Linked DNA regions of Homo sapiens: region 1 is linked to region 2. Evidence: fine-mapped expression QTL. Tissue or cell type: whole blood. Region 2 holds a variant in brackets; the other region holds the start of a gene. All regions are shown on one strand. Distances are from middle to middle.

The links. PIP is the estimated chance that this variant, and not a neighbour inherited with it, causes the effect.
Region 1: MINPP1 starts here. The variant in region 2 is fine-mapped to the expression of MINPP1 in whole blood (TOPMed, PIP 0.93).

The regions. Positions count from the first base shown.
Region 1 is chr10:87,500,055-87,508,054 of GRCh38, reverse strand. It overlaps MINPP1 (multiple inositol-polyphosphate phosphatase 1), which reads right to left and starts at 3,162. Exons shown (of 5, transcript NM_004897.5): 1 at 2,503-3,162. The coding sequence starts at 3,139. MIR4678 (microRNA 4678) reads right to left here and starts at 4,174; the gene lies at 4,101-4,174. It overlaps LOC112268064 (a long non-coding RNA gene), which reads left to right and starts at 3,221. Exons shown (of 2, transcript XR_002957094.2): 1 at 3,221-3,720; 2 at 7,237-8,000. RefSeq lists enhancers at 2,883-2,942, 3,103-3,192 and a cis regulatory region at 7,053-7,437.
Region 2 is chr10:87,035,859-87,044,118 of GRCh38, reverse strand. It overlaps the pseudogene RNU6-529P. Among named protein-coding and RNA genes, the nearest start is that of FAM25A, 20 kb to the right of the region's middle. The variant C/G (reference allele first, on the strand shown) is at 5,009.

The DNA of each region.
Region 1 (8,000 bases), 460 kb before region 2:
GTACTGTTTCTGTCAGGCACGGAAAACTTTAGAAAGCAAACTAAAAATCAGCAAAGTTTCTACTTACAAGGTGAGAGAGAATTCAACATATGGAATCTATTTTTTCACTCTAAGCCAAAGTCTAAACAGAGTATTTTATTTTCTCAATTAACCTTCCCAACTCTGTATTACTTTACAAAGATTCTGCTTTGGACAAAAACTACTGACAGCAGCACAAAACGCACTGATGTTTTGGGTCTCCTGTGCTTCACTGTGCTGGGCCTGTGAATTGGTTTATCTTTTAACTGAAGCCCCAGATAACTTTCTATATAAAATTTAATAAATTACATTATGCCCCCAATTGGGCAACAAATATGTATTGGAGAAGCATTCATAATCATGCTTCAACTACTGGTGTGCCCTTTACGTTTTTTTCAGTCATATTCAAAACACACATTTTTCAATCATTTCTCCAACAATTTACCACGAAAAGAACACCAAGTATATCATTTTTGTACATAAAATATGAGAAAATTGAATATAGTTTTATCTGGGCTTTGGATGTGTATGCAAAAAAAATCAGTATGTATGTTTGTTTCTCTTGAAATGGATAATTCTGCCCACTTTGTCAACTGGATTGCAATTCTTAAGAAAATATCTTGACTAGGAAAATAAGCGAACTTTGTCACCTTTTTTCTGTGTACACTAAAATATAATTTCCCAAGTGCATCTGGGTATTTTATCCTTGTTACTATCTAATTATTGCTAGTCTTTAAACAAAAACAAAGGCATTGTTCTGTTTCTACAAAACTACAAATCTAATTCAGCAGACTCCCTCAAAAGACCAGATGTACATAATAGGCAAAACTATTGTCTATAGAGAATAATAAAGTGGCTAGGCAAAGGGTTTGCTATCTGACACTGAAAACGGTCAGGAGTGGGCTTATTCTGAACTGTAGTATTTTCATCCCTGGCTCTGTACTGAGAGTCAAATGCCAGTCTTCGCAATGCCATCTGAGAACAAAAATTCACTTGTTCCAGGAAGTCGCTATAGATATTGTGTTATATTAAAATATGTTCTGCTTTCACCATTCTGTTAATTTAACAGATTTATGAGGAATTTTCACTCATGCTAATGGAAAAAGTATATATTTAAAAAAAAACACAGTTCAACAAGTAATTAGACACAAGTCAGCTAACTGAATTACCCACAATAACATGACACAGAATCAGTGGAGAAATCCCTTACAGATGGTTTCACTGTTCAACAGCTACAGAAGAAATTACAAACCAGCCTACTTCTAATTTTTCACTTGGGCTTTGAAGCTAAACAATAATCCTCACTTCAATTCTGGCCTTAAAAGTGATCAAGAAACTATTAATGCTTGCTCATCTCTGTGGTACAAAAATGTTACATGTTTTTATTCTTATTAGGTATGTTATTGGACAAATGGAGGCAGTATAGCATAATGGCTAAGAAAGCAAGCTCTGAATCAGATTTCCTGGGTCCACAGCTAGCTGTATGAAAATGGGCAAATTATTTAATGTGTTCGTGTATCAATTTCCTCATCTTTGAGATAAGGGGAAAATACTATCAACTCCAGATTGTGGTTGTAAGGATTTTGTAAAATAAATGTGAGGCATACCTGGCATACAATAGGCATGAGGTGTATGCTATCATTATTATTTGTAACTATTACAACATTTTCTAAGAGAAAAAGAACCATTCTAGGAAAACAGAAGACTTGGATACTAGACCTTAGAGAAAGACAATTAAGAAGGCATACTCTTGGGCTCGGGTTCTTCACCTGTGAAATAACGGGGCCTTACTAGATGATTTCTCAAATTTCGAAAAAGTGTAATTAATGGAATAAATGAGTTGTTACTGCTTGTGACCACGGACCACAGCTACAACGATGGGAACGCTACAGTAAAAACATGAACAAAACAGAAGAAAAAAGGAGGACACAAAGGCTTGAGATCAGGTTCCTAAAACAGGGTGTAGGTCTAAAACTGTCATCTGAAAAAGATGATGAGTTTAAAAAAAAAAAAAAAGAAAGAAGGAAAAACTAGTATCGGAAGCAAAGCCCGAGGAAGAAAATTCTAGATTCTGTTTTTTAAAACGTGCGCCCAATTGTGAAACTAGACGCCAGGGAAGGGGGAAGGGATGGGTTGGCGCTCGAAGGGGCAATTCAGTTTGGGAACGGGAGCGCAAAAATTGCGGGAGACCTCGTCTGTCCCCTTTCCTGTTGGATCCCCAACTCTACTAAAGCAGGCAGCGAGTACAAGGTGCTGAATTTACACCTGATGAATTAATAAATGAACATACGTGTAAGGGGAAAAAGAGATAGCCAAGTCTGTAATATCCCTCGACAGGGAGGACGTAGCCCGAGGGATGATGGCTTGGGAAAAGAGGAAAGAGAACTGGGGGGCATCGGAAAAGCCCAGGGTCTGGGGGAGGCGGGAGAGCATCCAGGGCGGGTGGGAGGACCGGGACAGCACACGGGCCGCCCGGGGGGTCACCTGCGACGTCCGGCGGCGGCAAGCCAGGGTGGTAGTGCTGCCACAGCCCCTGCAGGAAGGCGGCGCTGCTATCCATGCAGCGGTGCTTGGAACTGGTGATGAGCCGCAGGCGGCCGTAGTTCTCACGGCTGAAAAGGGCCGGGAAGAGCGAGGCCAGACGCAGCGCCAGCTGTCGCATATCCTGCCGTCCCTTCTCTACTAGCTGCCCGTCCATCCAGTCCGCGTACCACAAAGGCCAGTCGGCCAGCGCTGCACCCAGGTCGCGGCTGCCGGTACTACTAGCCCCGCCATCCCTGGACCCGCGGGCCTGCAGCAACCCGTGCAGCTGCCTCAGCTTGCGGATCTGTTTGACCGTGGGGTAGCGGGTGCCGTGGCGAATGAGGGCGACCAGCTGCACCGGGGTGCAGGTCCCCTCCAGCAGCTCAGGGTCCCGCCACGGAGCCTCGGGGCCCGACAATAGCACGGGGTTGACATCCTCGTAGCGAGTCTTGGTGCCGAAATAGGGGCTGAGCGACGAGGCCACCGGGTCCCTCGGCTCTAGAAGAGAGCAGCGCGCAAGCGACGAGAGCAGCGCCGCAGCCAGGGCCGCGGCAGGCGCTACGGAGGTCCGGAGGAGGCAGCCGGGCGCGCGTAGCATCGTCGGGACGGTCAGTGGAGTGCGCCGAGCCAGCTGCAGATGCCCAGCTTCCGGCTCCGGAGGGCAGGGGGCGGGTCTGGAGGGCGCTTCCGGCCGGCGGCCCTCGGGATGCGCTTCGCTGTTCTCTAGGAGGTACCAACCTCTGGCGGTGGGTCTTGCGTCCCGGCGGAAAGCTCCGAGGAGTCCTGTAGACTTGTGGCTCGGGTGGAGCCGGCGGAAAACCCCGAGAAGCTTGAGACAGCCGTGGCTGAGGTGGAGCCGGCGTCGCTGCCCTGGAGCGTGGGCGAGTTTCCTCTTAGCCGGAGCTTCAGGGATTGACTCAAAGACTCCTCCGCTTTTTTAGTTGTTTTGGGTGTGAATACAGCCCGGACTAAACCTTAGTCGCCTAGACTAAACCTTAGCCTCCCAGGCTGCCAAAACAGCACAGCTTTTACAGATGACTCTTACATCACCATCCCTACTCTGTGATACTGTGTTTTTCAAAGTTTAGTGCCTGAACCATCAGCATGAAATCTGCCTGAGACGGTTGTTGAAAATTCACATCGCTGGGCCTTGCGGCAGGATGCCTCTTGAAGCCCAAGGTTTTTGTTTCGTTTTTTTCCATTTGAGTTTGAAAATAAACAGGATACAGTAAAGCAGAGAACTTGGAAAGGGGCTTACATTCTGCAGGAATTTAAGTCCTGAATCTTTGGTATAATCTTGACCTGGACTACCAGAGCTAACGCCGACATCAGTGAGACAGCACCCTAAAAGTTCTGTGCTTGTTGTTCCCGAAGGCTTAGCGAGTAGAGACATAGCAATCTAGAGAATTTGGGTGCATTGAGTCATGGCCCAACAGATTTACTCTATTATTAAGTATGAGCTAATCTGCTTTGCGAAGCAAACATGCTCTGTATTTACCACCACTCCAGATCCATACGTTCCTCCCATGTACTTACTTACATACTCAAATCAAAAGCTGGGTTTTTTAATAGGTTATTGCTCAGAATCTTTGACCCCAAAAATCATAAGTCTGAACAATACCTTGTTTTTTCCCACTTGAACTCCAGTTTATTTGCCAGCTGGGGAAATAATAAGTATTACAGAAGTCGTACGGTGATCCAGATTTAAGGAAATTGGGACCACGTTTTCATTAAGTTAGCTTTTGCTTCAAAGACACTATTACATTGCTCTTTATAAGCCCATCACCATCTTTACTCCTTTTCTCTTTAAGTGTCTCCTTGGTTTAGAGAGGTGTTCCTCTAAGTTTAGGCGTGCCTCTAAATGTTAACCAAGAAGAAACGGGGCCAGCCTATGAATGCTGAAAATTTGGAGACGTTCTGTGCAGGAAACCATCTTTAGGGCAACAGATGTTCTTTTCGATATGCTATTTTGTAGCATGTCAATGCCTGAATATTCATGGTCAGTGATATTTTTGTAGAACTTTGCTCAAATTAGCATTTAGTAAATATCCGCTCCTTCTTAAAATAGACATTCTAACCCGTATGCTCTATAGGCTGAGTCGCCTGATAATATTTCTAAGTGCATTCAGCGAGCATTTGTTCCAGGTTCATCTCACTGTATTTTGCCTAATACATATGCTTACTAATAACTTCTCACACCCAATCTTTTGAGTCCTAGGGGTTACCAAGTGTTCCCAAAGTCATTATTCACTTCTTCCTTATGAAGCAATCTTTAGAGACTCCACTTACAAAATGTATGGCACAGTACACATTTTTATACATGAAATTTGCCCCTAGTTTGATTTTATTTTCCTTATCTAATTCCTCATCAATTAATTTTATCCTGTTTTATACACTTAGGTATATCAGCTCCTAATTATTTTGATGTTATGCCAAGATAACAATGATAAAGTAAAAGTAAGCAATGCCTCCATGTTTTTGGCTAGGAAAAAGCCAAATATAAAGAAGACGAAGAGTGCTTAAGCTTTGGACCCAGACTCTAATTAGCTCTGCTGCTTATTAATTGAGTGACCCAAGTTCTCTGGGCCTTAGTTTTTTTTTTTTATCTGAAAATTGGTAATATTAGAACCTATATCATGGGATTATCATGACAGAGATGATGTATTTAAAATCCATATGATAGGCCGCTATAAATGATATTTTTATCATTACTAATGTTCAGTGTGATTATTCCTGTGCTAAGATGCCTAGCTTTCTAGCAATTACATGGATTACACTTACTCCCACTGAACATTAAAGTGAATGACTTTCACAGGCAACACATGCATCAAAGATCATTTCATAACTTTTCTAATAATAAAAATCCACTCATTTCACTTAAAATGGATATCTTGTTCTTAGAGCACTAAGCAGCCTTTGAAAAAATTTAAAAAGGTCACAGGCCGTGCTCCTCATTTCATGCCAGACCATGTCTGAATTATCTGGGCACTCTGTAAATTGGATGCCCTTTGACATAGGTGCCCACTTGGTCCAATCATGTAGTACAGAGAAGTTTGCATAGTGCGAAACATGGCTATTCCTTTGCAGAGATCATGGGAACATCACCTCCCCTCATAAGAAATTGTGGGTATGGGAGCAATATATTTGGCAAATCTAACACAATACAAGAGGCAGAAAGGAAAATTAATGGTTCAAGGTCCTTGCAGAGATGGGAGAGGACAGAACCAAAAACACAGGTAGAGAATTTGATTTGGGCCAGAAGGAGATGAGACCTTATCTTCTAAGAGAATGTTAGAAGGATGGGTGAACATGGGGATAAATTTGTAGATCTGGCAGGAGAGAGTTCATAGAATTCAAGTCTGATGGCCTCAGTTTCCACAGTAACATAGGAGACAAGTTTGAAAGATGGGGGAATAGGAATTAAGTCTTGAAATGTGAAAATGGTTTGGATTTGCAACTGAGAGAAATGGGAAAGTAATGGGAAAGGATTGACAACTAAGAGGAATGGGAGAAACAAGTAGAAGTTTGTATGGTCAGCTCTGGAGATCCAACTGAGAATGAATTGCTAGTGGTTCTGCAATTTTATTTAGAAGCAAACATTATCTGTTGTATTTTTTCAGAGTGGAAAAGAAAAAAAGTTTAACTTGATGGTCCTACATTAATGGGTCTTGAGTAGAACTTCATTTCTAATCAATCCACTATACGAAAGGATAAGCTCAATTATTTTTGCCAGATTATCCATAGGATTTCAAAAATAGTCATTCAGCTTTTAAGATTGCATGGTGTCAGCCAGGCACAGTGGCTCATGCCTGTAATCTCAGCACTTCGGGAAGCTGAGGTGCGTGGATCACCTGAGGTCAGGAGTTCGAGACCAGCCTGGCCAACATGTTGAAACCCCATCTCTACTAAAAGTACAAAAAAATTAGCTGGGTGTGGTGGTGGACGCCTGTAATACCAGCTACTTGGGAGGCTGAGGCAGGAGAATTGCTTGAACTTGGGAGGTGGAGGTTGCAGTAAGCTGAGATCACGCCATTGCACTCCAGCCTGGGCAACAAGAGTAAAACTCCATCTCAAAAAGAAAAAAAAAGATTACATGGTGTCATATATAGTATTTTAAGTTAACAGCCATCTACTTTACTTTTAAAGAGGTTACTAAGATAGTTTTCTGGGGATGAAACAATAAAGGAAAGGAAACAGCTAAATTCTGTAGGGAAACAGCAAGGCTCTCTATGTAAGCATATACAATACTAAGAACATGGTCTCAGAAGTTAGACTTTCTGGTTTTCAGATTCCAGCTTCATCTCTTATTACCTGTGAAATATTTAAAAAATTAAATTATTTTGCCACCATTCTTTTTCATTGTAAAGTGGGGATAATAATACCTAGCCATGAGACTGTTGAGAGGATTAAACGAAACAGCTTATATAAAGACTTTATATAGTTTCTGCCCCCAAATAAATATCAGTTGCTTTTATTAAGCAGAATTAAAGGGTTTCTTATTATCACGTCTCTCTTAAATAAACTGACAAATAGTTTTTCATAGATATTTATTATCTCATAACTACATTAAGCAACGAACTTTGTGCCTATGCCAGGAAAGTTTGAGCTTTCTTATCTTTCTGCCCTGCTGTTGCATCATTCCTCTTTTAACAGTTGCCAGATGTTGATTTAGTGTTTATTGGCTTTTTGTTGCAGTGGAAGCCAACAGAAGAGGGGTCCATGTGTACAGATAGGCCTGGAGTGATCCATGTTCCAACAGCAGTCCCTTTAACCTCACTTGAATGTGGAGGCTGCACAGGTCACAAGTCTGAAGACTACAAGCTACCTTTGCTTAAAAGGAACCACACCACCGCTGATAGCTAACTGCTAGATTGTTCTCCAGCATATCAGAGCTACATTGAATTGCTTGAGTTGTGCTTCAATTAATGTAGAGATCTTCACTGAATCGCACATAACCATTGAAGTAACCTGCTGTTTACAGTCTCTATCATGCTCTGCCAAGAGAGTTATTTTACAGTGACAAAACTTCTCTTCTGGTGCCCTGACACATCCTAGGACTTTGATGTTGGTAATTCTTTCCCCTCAGCAAATGTTGGTTCTAAATCCACAGAACTACTTGAGAAACTAGATGCAAAATTGTAGTAGGTTTAAACTATCAATACTCTTTTTTTTTTTTTTTTTTTTTTTTGAGACAGAGTCTCTCGCTCTGTCACCCAGGCTGGAGTGCAGTGGCGCGATCTCGGCTCACTGCAAGCTCCGCCTCCCGGATTCACACCATTTGCCTGCCTCAGCCTCCCGAGTAGCTGGGACTACAGGCGCCCACCACCACGCCTGGGTAATTTTTTGTATTTTTTAGTAGAGACGGGGTTTCACCGTGTTAGCCATGATGGTCTCGATCTCCTGACCTCTTGATCTGCCCGCCTCGGCCTCCCAAAGTGCTGGGATTACAGGCGTGAGCC
Region 2 (8,260 bases):
GGGGTTTGTCTGAGACAGAGTCTTGCTCTGTCACTCAGGCTGGAGTGCAGTGTTTCATTCTCAGCTCACTGCAGCCTTTGCCTCCCAAGTTCAAGTGATACTCAGCCTCCTGAGTAGCTGGGATTGCAGGCGCCCACCACCACAGCCAGGTAATTTTTTGTATTTTTAGTAGAGACAGGGTTTCACTACATTGGCCAGGCTACTCTCGAGCTCCTGGCCTCAAGTGGCCCACCTGCCTCGGCCTCCCAAAGTGCCAGGCACAGGCATGAGCCACTGCACCCGGCCTGTTTGGGGTTTTTTTGAGACGGGGTCTAGCTCTGTTGCCCAGGCTGGAGTGCAGTGGCACAATCACGGCTCACTACAACCTTGACCTCCGCAGGCTCAGCTGATCCTCCCACCTCAGCCTCCTGAGTAGCTGGAACCACAGGTGTGCACCACCATGCCCAGCTTATTTTTCTATTTTTTGTAGAGACAGGAGTCTTGCTATGTTGCCCAGACTGGTCTCAAACGCCTGGGCTCAAGCAATCTGCCCACCTCAGCATCCCAAAGTGATAGGATTACAGGCCTGAGTCCAACCATAAGTAAGTTTTTGTTTTTTGTTTTTGAGTCAATCTCTCTGTCCCCCAGGCTGAAGAGCAGTGGTGCGATCATGGCTCACTGCAGCCTCACCTCCAGGCGGGAGCCACCATGCCGGTCAATTAACTTTTTTGTTTCAGTAATCACTTTAAATGTAAATAATCTGACCAATGGAAAGATCGGCAGAATGGATTTTTTTTAAATGATGTAATACACAATCCAAATATGCAACTTACAAAATACTCACTGTAGACCCAAGACACAAATTGTTTCAAAATGAAAAGACGGAAAGAGATAATCCATGCAAATAGTAACCAAAAGAGAGCTGGGGTGGCTATACTAATACCAGACAAAATAGATTTTAAGCCAAAAAATGTTACAGAAAGACATCGTATGTTGGTAAGAGAGTCAAATCACAAGAAGATGTAACAATTATAAATACGTATGAACTGAAAAAGAAAAAAAAAGGGCTCTAAAATGCACAGTCTAACAAAATTGAAGGAAGAAATAGTTTTACAATAACAGAGACTTCAACACAGGCTGGAGTGCAGTGACTCTATCACAGCTCACTGCGACCTCTGCCTCCCAGACTCAAGCGATTCTCCCACCTCAGCCTCCCCAGTAGCTGGAACTATAGGCACACGCCACCACACCCGGCCAATCTGTGTATTTTTTGTGGAGATGGGGTTTCATCATGTTGCCCAGGCTGGTCTCAAATGCCCAAGCTCAAGCAATTCGCCCACCTCAGCCTCCCAAAGTGCTGGGATTACAGGCCTGACCTACTGTGTCCAGTCAATACCCCACCTTCAATAGTAAATAGAACATCTAGACAAAATCAGTAAGGAACTAGAGGAATTGAACAACACACTAAACCAAATAGACCTAACAGACATATGGAAAGATATCCATCTAACAAGAGCAGAATATATATTCCTCTCAAGTGCACATGGAACATTCCCCATGATAAATCATATGTTAGGCCACAAAACAATTCTCAATAAATTTTAAAAGGTCAAAATTATACAAAGGGCCAGGTGTGGTGGCTCACAGCTGTAATCCCAGCACTTTGTGAGGCTGAGACAGGCGGATCACTTGAGCCCAGGAGTTCAAGACCAGCCTGGGCAACATGGTGAAACCCTGTCTCTACCAAAATAAAAAATAAAAAAATTAGCCGGCTGTAGTGGTGGTGAACGCCTGTAGCCCCAGCTACTCAGGAGGCTCAGGCAGGAGGATGGCTTGAGCCTGGAAGGCAGAGGCTGCAGTGACCTGAGATCATACCACTACACTCCAGCCTGCAGGACAGAGCGGGACTTGTCTTAAAAAAAAAAAAAAAAAAAAAAAACAGGCCAGGCTTGGTGGCTCATGCCTGTAATCCCAGCACTTTGGGAGGCCAAGGTGGGTGGATGACCTGTGGTCAGGGGTTCGAAACCAGCCTGGCCAGCATGGCAAAACCCCAACTCTAATAAAAAATACAAAAAATTAGCTGGGAGTGGAGGCAGGCACCTGTAATCCCAGCTACTTGGAAGGTTGAGCTAGGAGAATTGCTTGAATCTGGGAGGCAGAGGTTGCAATGAGCCGAGATCACACCACTGCACTCCACCTTGAGCAACAGACTGAGACTCTGTCTCAAAAAAAAAAAAATTATGCAAAGTGTCTTTTCCAACAAAAGTGTAATGAAGCTAGAAGTCAATAACAGGAAAACCTGGAGAATTTGCAAGTAAGTGAAAGTTAAACAACATTCTTAACCAGTGGCTCAAAGAAGAAATGACTAGAGAAATTGAAATACTTTCAGATGAATTAAAATAAAATGCAAGATACCAAAATTTATGAGATGGTGTGACAGGGGTACTCAGTGAAACTTATAGCTGGAAATACTTACATCAGACGGTCACGGTGGCTCATGCCTGTAATCCCAGCACTTTGGGAGGCCGAGGCGGGTGGATCGCGACCATCCTGGCTAGCACAGTGAAATCCCATCTCTACTAAAAATACAAAAAAAAAAAATTGGCCAGGTGCAGTGGCGGGCGCCTGTAGTCCCAGTTACTCCGGAGGCTGAGGCAGGAGAATGGCGTGAACCCAGGAGGCAGAGCTGGCAGTGAGCCGAGATCATGCCATTGCACTCCAGCCTGGGCGACAGAGCGAGACTCCATCTCAAAAAATAATAATAATAATAAATACTTTCATTAAAAAAGGACAATCTCATGCTTGCTTCATCAGCACATACACTAAAATTGGAACAATACAGAGATTAGCCTGGCCCCTGTGCAAGGATGACATGCAAATTCGTGAAGTGTTTCATATTTATTTTATTAAAAAAAAAAAAAAAGACCGGGCACGGTGGTTTACACCTATAATCCTGACACTTTGGGAGGCCGAGGTGGGTGGGTCATGAGTTCAGGAGATCGAGACCATCCTGGCCAATATGGTGAAACCCCGTCTCTACTAAAATACAAAAAATTAGCTGGGCATGGTGGTGCGCACCTGTATTCCCAGCTACTCAGGAGGCTGAGGCAAGGGAATCACTTGAACCCGGGGGACAGAGGTTGCAGTGAGCCAAGATCGCACACTGTACTCAAACCTAGTGACAGAGCAAGACTCCATCTCAAAAAAAAAAAAAAAAAGAAAAGATAAAAGGAACGATTTCAAATTAACAACCTAACTTTACACCTAAGGGGTATTTAACCTTTTGGTTTCCCTGGCCACATTGGAAGAATAATTGTCTTGGGCTAAGGGAGGAGACCACCCCTCATATTGTCTTATGCCCAGTTTCTGCCTCCAAAGAAAGAAAGAGAAAAAACTAAAAGGCAGAAATGAAATCCACAAGCAGACAGCCCAGCGCCACACCCTGGGCCTGGTAGTTAAAGATCGACCCCTGACCTAATCGGTTATGTTATCTATAGATTACAGACATTGTATAGAAAAGCACTGTGAAAATCCCTGTCCTGTTTTGTTCTTAATTGCCAGGGCATGCAGCCCCCAGTCACACACCTGCTTCTTGCTCAATCGATCACGACCCTCTCATGCGCACCCCCTTAGAGATGTGAGCCCTTAAAAGGGACAGGAATTGCTCACTTAAGGAGCTTCGCTCTTGAGACAGGAGTCTTGCTGATGCCCCCAGCCGAATAAACCCCTTCCTTCTTTAACTCAGTGTCTGAGTAGTTTTGTCTGCAGCTCGTCCTGCTACGGGGCCACACATAAAATGCACTAACCCTAACAATAGGTGATGAACTAAAAAAAAAAAAAAAAAAAAACCTCAAGAAAATCTCATACTGTTTTCTGTTATTTGTAAAGTTTATGAATTTGTGTTGGGCTGCATTCAAAGTTATCCTGGGCTGCATGTTGGACAAGCTTGACCTAAGGTGTAAAAGAAGAGCTAACTAAACCTACAGCCAGCTGAAGGAAGGAAATACTAGAGATTAAAGCAGAATGAAATAGAGAATAGAGGAAAAATAATTGTCAAAACAAAAAGTTGGTTCATGGGAAAAAAAAACAAATTTGATGAACCTTTAGTTAGACTGACTCAGAAAAAAAAAGAGAATAGTAAATAACTAAAATCAGAAAGAAAATGGTGACATTATTACTGATCTTACAGAAATTTTAAAGATTTTTAAGACAATACTATGAAAAATTATATTCCAAAAATTAGACATCTAGATAAAATGTAGATTCCTAGAAACACACAAATTACCAAATATGACTTAAGAAGAAATAGAAAATCTCAATAGACCTATAACAAGAAAAGAGAATACATACACACACATATACCCATACATAAACCTACTGGCCAGGCATGGTGGCTCACACCTGTAATCCCAACACTTTGGGATGTTAATGCAGGCAGGTTGCTTGAGCCCAAGAGTTCAAGACCAGCCTGGGCAACATGGCAAAACCCCATCTCTACAAAAAGTACAAAAACTAGCAAGGTGTGGTGGCTCACACCTGTAGTCCCAGCTACTCAGAAGGCTGAGGTGGGAAGATCACTTAAGCCAGGAGGTGGAGGTTATAGTGAGCCAAAGATTGCACCACTGTACTCCAGCCTGGGTGACAGAGCCAAAAAGCAAACAAACAAATAAACCTACTAGAGCTAATTTTAATTCAGCAAAATTGCAGGGTACAAAATCAACACACAAAAATTAGTTATGGAAATATACATGTTAAGATGGCCAACTAGATGCAGCCAGGTGCAACAGCTGCCACCGAGGGACTGATTTGACTGGTGCACTACTAATGGATCTTCAGAGGGAAGGCACTGAGAGTAGATGGAGGGAAGACACAGAAGCTAGGCTAAAGGGGTAGTAAGCTGGGAGGCCTGCATGGGGCTACTGCACCCTGGAACTCATTCCTGGCCCCCAATGACTGGGGGAAAGGGTGAGTTGAACTTGCAAGAAGCAATGCTTCTTATGTCCAGCCTCTGGAATCCTGGCAGGAGATC[C/G]TTTGAGCATCATGGACAGTAGAGTTGCAAGGGAGAGAAGCTTGGAGAAGCAGCCAGGGCAGCAGCCAGCTGATGAACCCAGAGGGTTTGGTGTGAGAGCAGCTGTAGTGGAGCACAGCCAAGGACAGCCACACCCCTAGACTCAACTTGCTCCCATAGGAGACTTTCACCCTAAGGGAACCACTGGGCCTGAACTTCGCAATGCAGTCTTACTCATCAGGCAGGGCTGGTCCTACCTGAGCACTCCTTGGTTCGCTGGCCTCTCTGAGGGTCCAGCCTGGCCATGCCTGATTGCAGGGAAGCCTTGAGCACCCTAGGGGCCCACATCATAGCTCCAGTGCTGGTGGACCATGCCTGAAATGCGAAGAGCTCCCCCGGGGCAGCTCCCAGGGCCACACACCAGTGCACACACTCCTTCTACACTGCATCTTCCCCAAGGCCCACGGTAACACCGCACATGGCTTTGCCAACATGTGTGTGCATGGGCAGCTTCTGCTTATCTTGTCCTGCCAGCCTGCATGTATGTGTACACCCTGCCCTGCAAGTACTGCAGCAGGAGTGCAGTCTGCTCCACTCTCCCTTCTGACCACCACTGTAGTCAGAGCCTTGGTGGGCACAGAGCCAGCCAGCCCCAACCCCTCCCCTGCCAGTGCCCCACCCATTTGCCAGCACTGCTCCAAGTGAAACTAGGCACAGAGAACAGCAGACTCTTCCCTACCCTGAGCGCTCTCCAGCACCCTGCTGCCATGTCAACACCACTACTGGTGCAACCACATGCACAGACACCAGAAGGGGCCCCCACCCTGCCAGCTGTGTTCCCTTTGCTGCTGTGGTAAATGCTGCCACAGAGGCAGGCATGCCAGCACCCACTAGCACCCTACTGCAGCCATGCTGCTGCTGCCACTGCCGCTGGCACATGCAAATGGGGATGGATTCCACTGTCTCTGCACTACTAAAAGCTTTGGCTGACATCACCCGTTAGAGTGTAGTGACCAGCAGTCTGAGAGCATCTTGGCTCACCCAGTGCAGTGGATTCTTATCCTTGAGGAGACAGAACAAAGTTGGGGCTCGATACAAGTCCTCCAGGGTTACAGCACACAGTCCAGGAGTTGGGAGCTCAGTGTTGGTCCTCTAAACTCTTCCAGAAATGAAGCCAGTTGACTGAATCCACCTTATACCACAGTGAAACCCTCAAGGTCGTCAAATAGGATAAAAGGAAAAAAACCCATCCAAAGGTCAGCAGCTTCAAAGATTGAAGGAAAATAACCCTGCAAAGATAAAAAAGAACCAGTGCAAGAACTCTCACAACTCAAAAAACCAGAGTGCCTTCTTTCCTCCAAACGGCTGCACCACCTCTCCAGCAAGGGGTTTGAACCAGGCTGAGATGGCTGAAATGACAGAAATAGAATTCAGAATATGGATTGGGATGAAGATCTTCGATATGCAGGAGTATGTTGAAAGCCAATCTAAGGAAGCTAAGAATCAGGATAAAACAATGCAAGAGCCAACAGAAAAAATAGCCAGTACAAAAAAGGATGTAGCCAACTTGATAGAGCTAAAAAACACACTACAAGAATTACATTAATAGCAGAATAGACCAAGTGGAAGAAAGTATCTCAGGGGCTGAAGACTGGCTTTCTGAAAGAAGACACGCAGACAAGAATGAAGAAAAAAAAATTAAAAGGAAGAAACAAAACCTCTGAGAAATGTGGGATTATGTAAAGAGACCAGATCTACGACTCACTGGTGTCCCTGAAAGAGATAGAGAGAGTATAAGCAACTTGGGAAGTGTATTCCAGGATATCATTTATGAGAACTTCCCCGACCTAGCTAGAGAGACCGACATTCAAATTCAGGAAATGCAGAGAACCCTAGTAAGAAACTTCACAAGAAGATCATCCCCAAGACACATACTCATTAGATTCTCTGAGGTCAAAATGAAAAAAAAAAGTTAAAGGCAGCTAGAGAGAAAGGTCAGGTCACCTACAAAAGGACCCCATCAGGCTAACAGTGGACCTCTCAGTAGAACCCCAACAAGCCAGGAGAGATAGGCAGCCTATCTTCAACATTCTTAATAAAAAGAAATTCCAACTGAGAATTTCATATCCAGCCAAATTAAGCTCCATAAGTGAAGGAGGAATAAGATCCTTTTCAGACAAGCAAATGCTGAGAGAATTTGTTATGACAAGATCTGCCCAAAAGCTCCTGAAGGAAGCACTAAATGTGAAAGGGAAAGACCATACCAGCCACTACAAAAACATCCTGAAGTATGCAGAGCAGTGACAGCATAAAGCAACCACACAAACAAGACTGCGTAATAACCAGCTAACATCAGGATGACAAGATCAAATCCACACATATCAATACTAACCTTGAATGTAAATGGGCTAAATGCCCCAATTAAAAGGCACACCATGGCAATCTGGATAAAGAATTAAGACTCATTGGTATGCCATCTTCAAGAGACTCATCTCACATGCTATGACACCCACTGGATCAAAATAAAGGGATGGAGAAAAATCTACCAAGCAAATGGAAAACAGAAAAAAATCAGGGGCTGCAATCCTAATTTCAGACAAAACAAACTTTACAAACCAACAAAGACCAAAAAACACAAAGAAGGGCATTACATAATGGTAAAGTGTTCAATTGAACAAGAAAACTTAACTATTCTAAGTATTAGTATTTATGCATCCAAAACAGGAGCACCCAGATTCATAAAGCAAGTTCTTAGAGACCTTCAAAGAGACTTAGACTCCCACACAATAGTAGTGGGAGATTTTAACATCTCACTGACAGTAATAGATACATCACTGGGGCAGAAAATTAACAATGATATTCGGGACTTGAACTCAGCACTGGATCAAATGGACTTGATAGACATCTACAGAACTCTCCTCACAAAAATAACAGAATATACATTCTCATCACCACATGACACATACTCCAAAATCAGTCACAGAATCATACACAAAATACTCCTCAGCAAATGCAGAAGAACTCAAATCATAACAACCAACCTCTCAGCCCATAGTGAAATCAAATTAGAAATCAAGACTAAGAAATTCACTCAAAATCATACAATTACATGGAAACTGAATAACCTGCTCCTAAATGACTTCTGGGTAAATAATTAACTTAAGGCCAAAATTAAGAAGTTCTTTGAAATGAATGAGAAAAAAAGATACAACATACCAGAATCTCTGGGACACAACCAAAGCAGTTTTAAGATGGATATTTACAACACTAAAT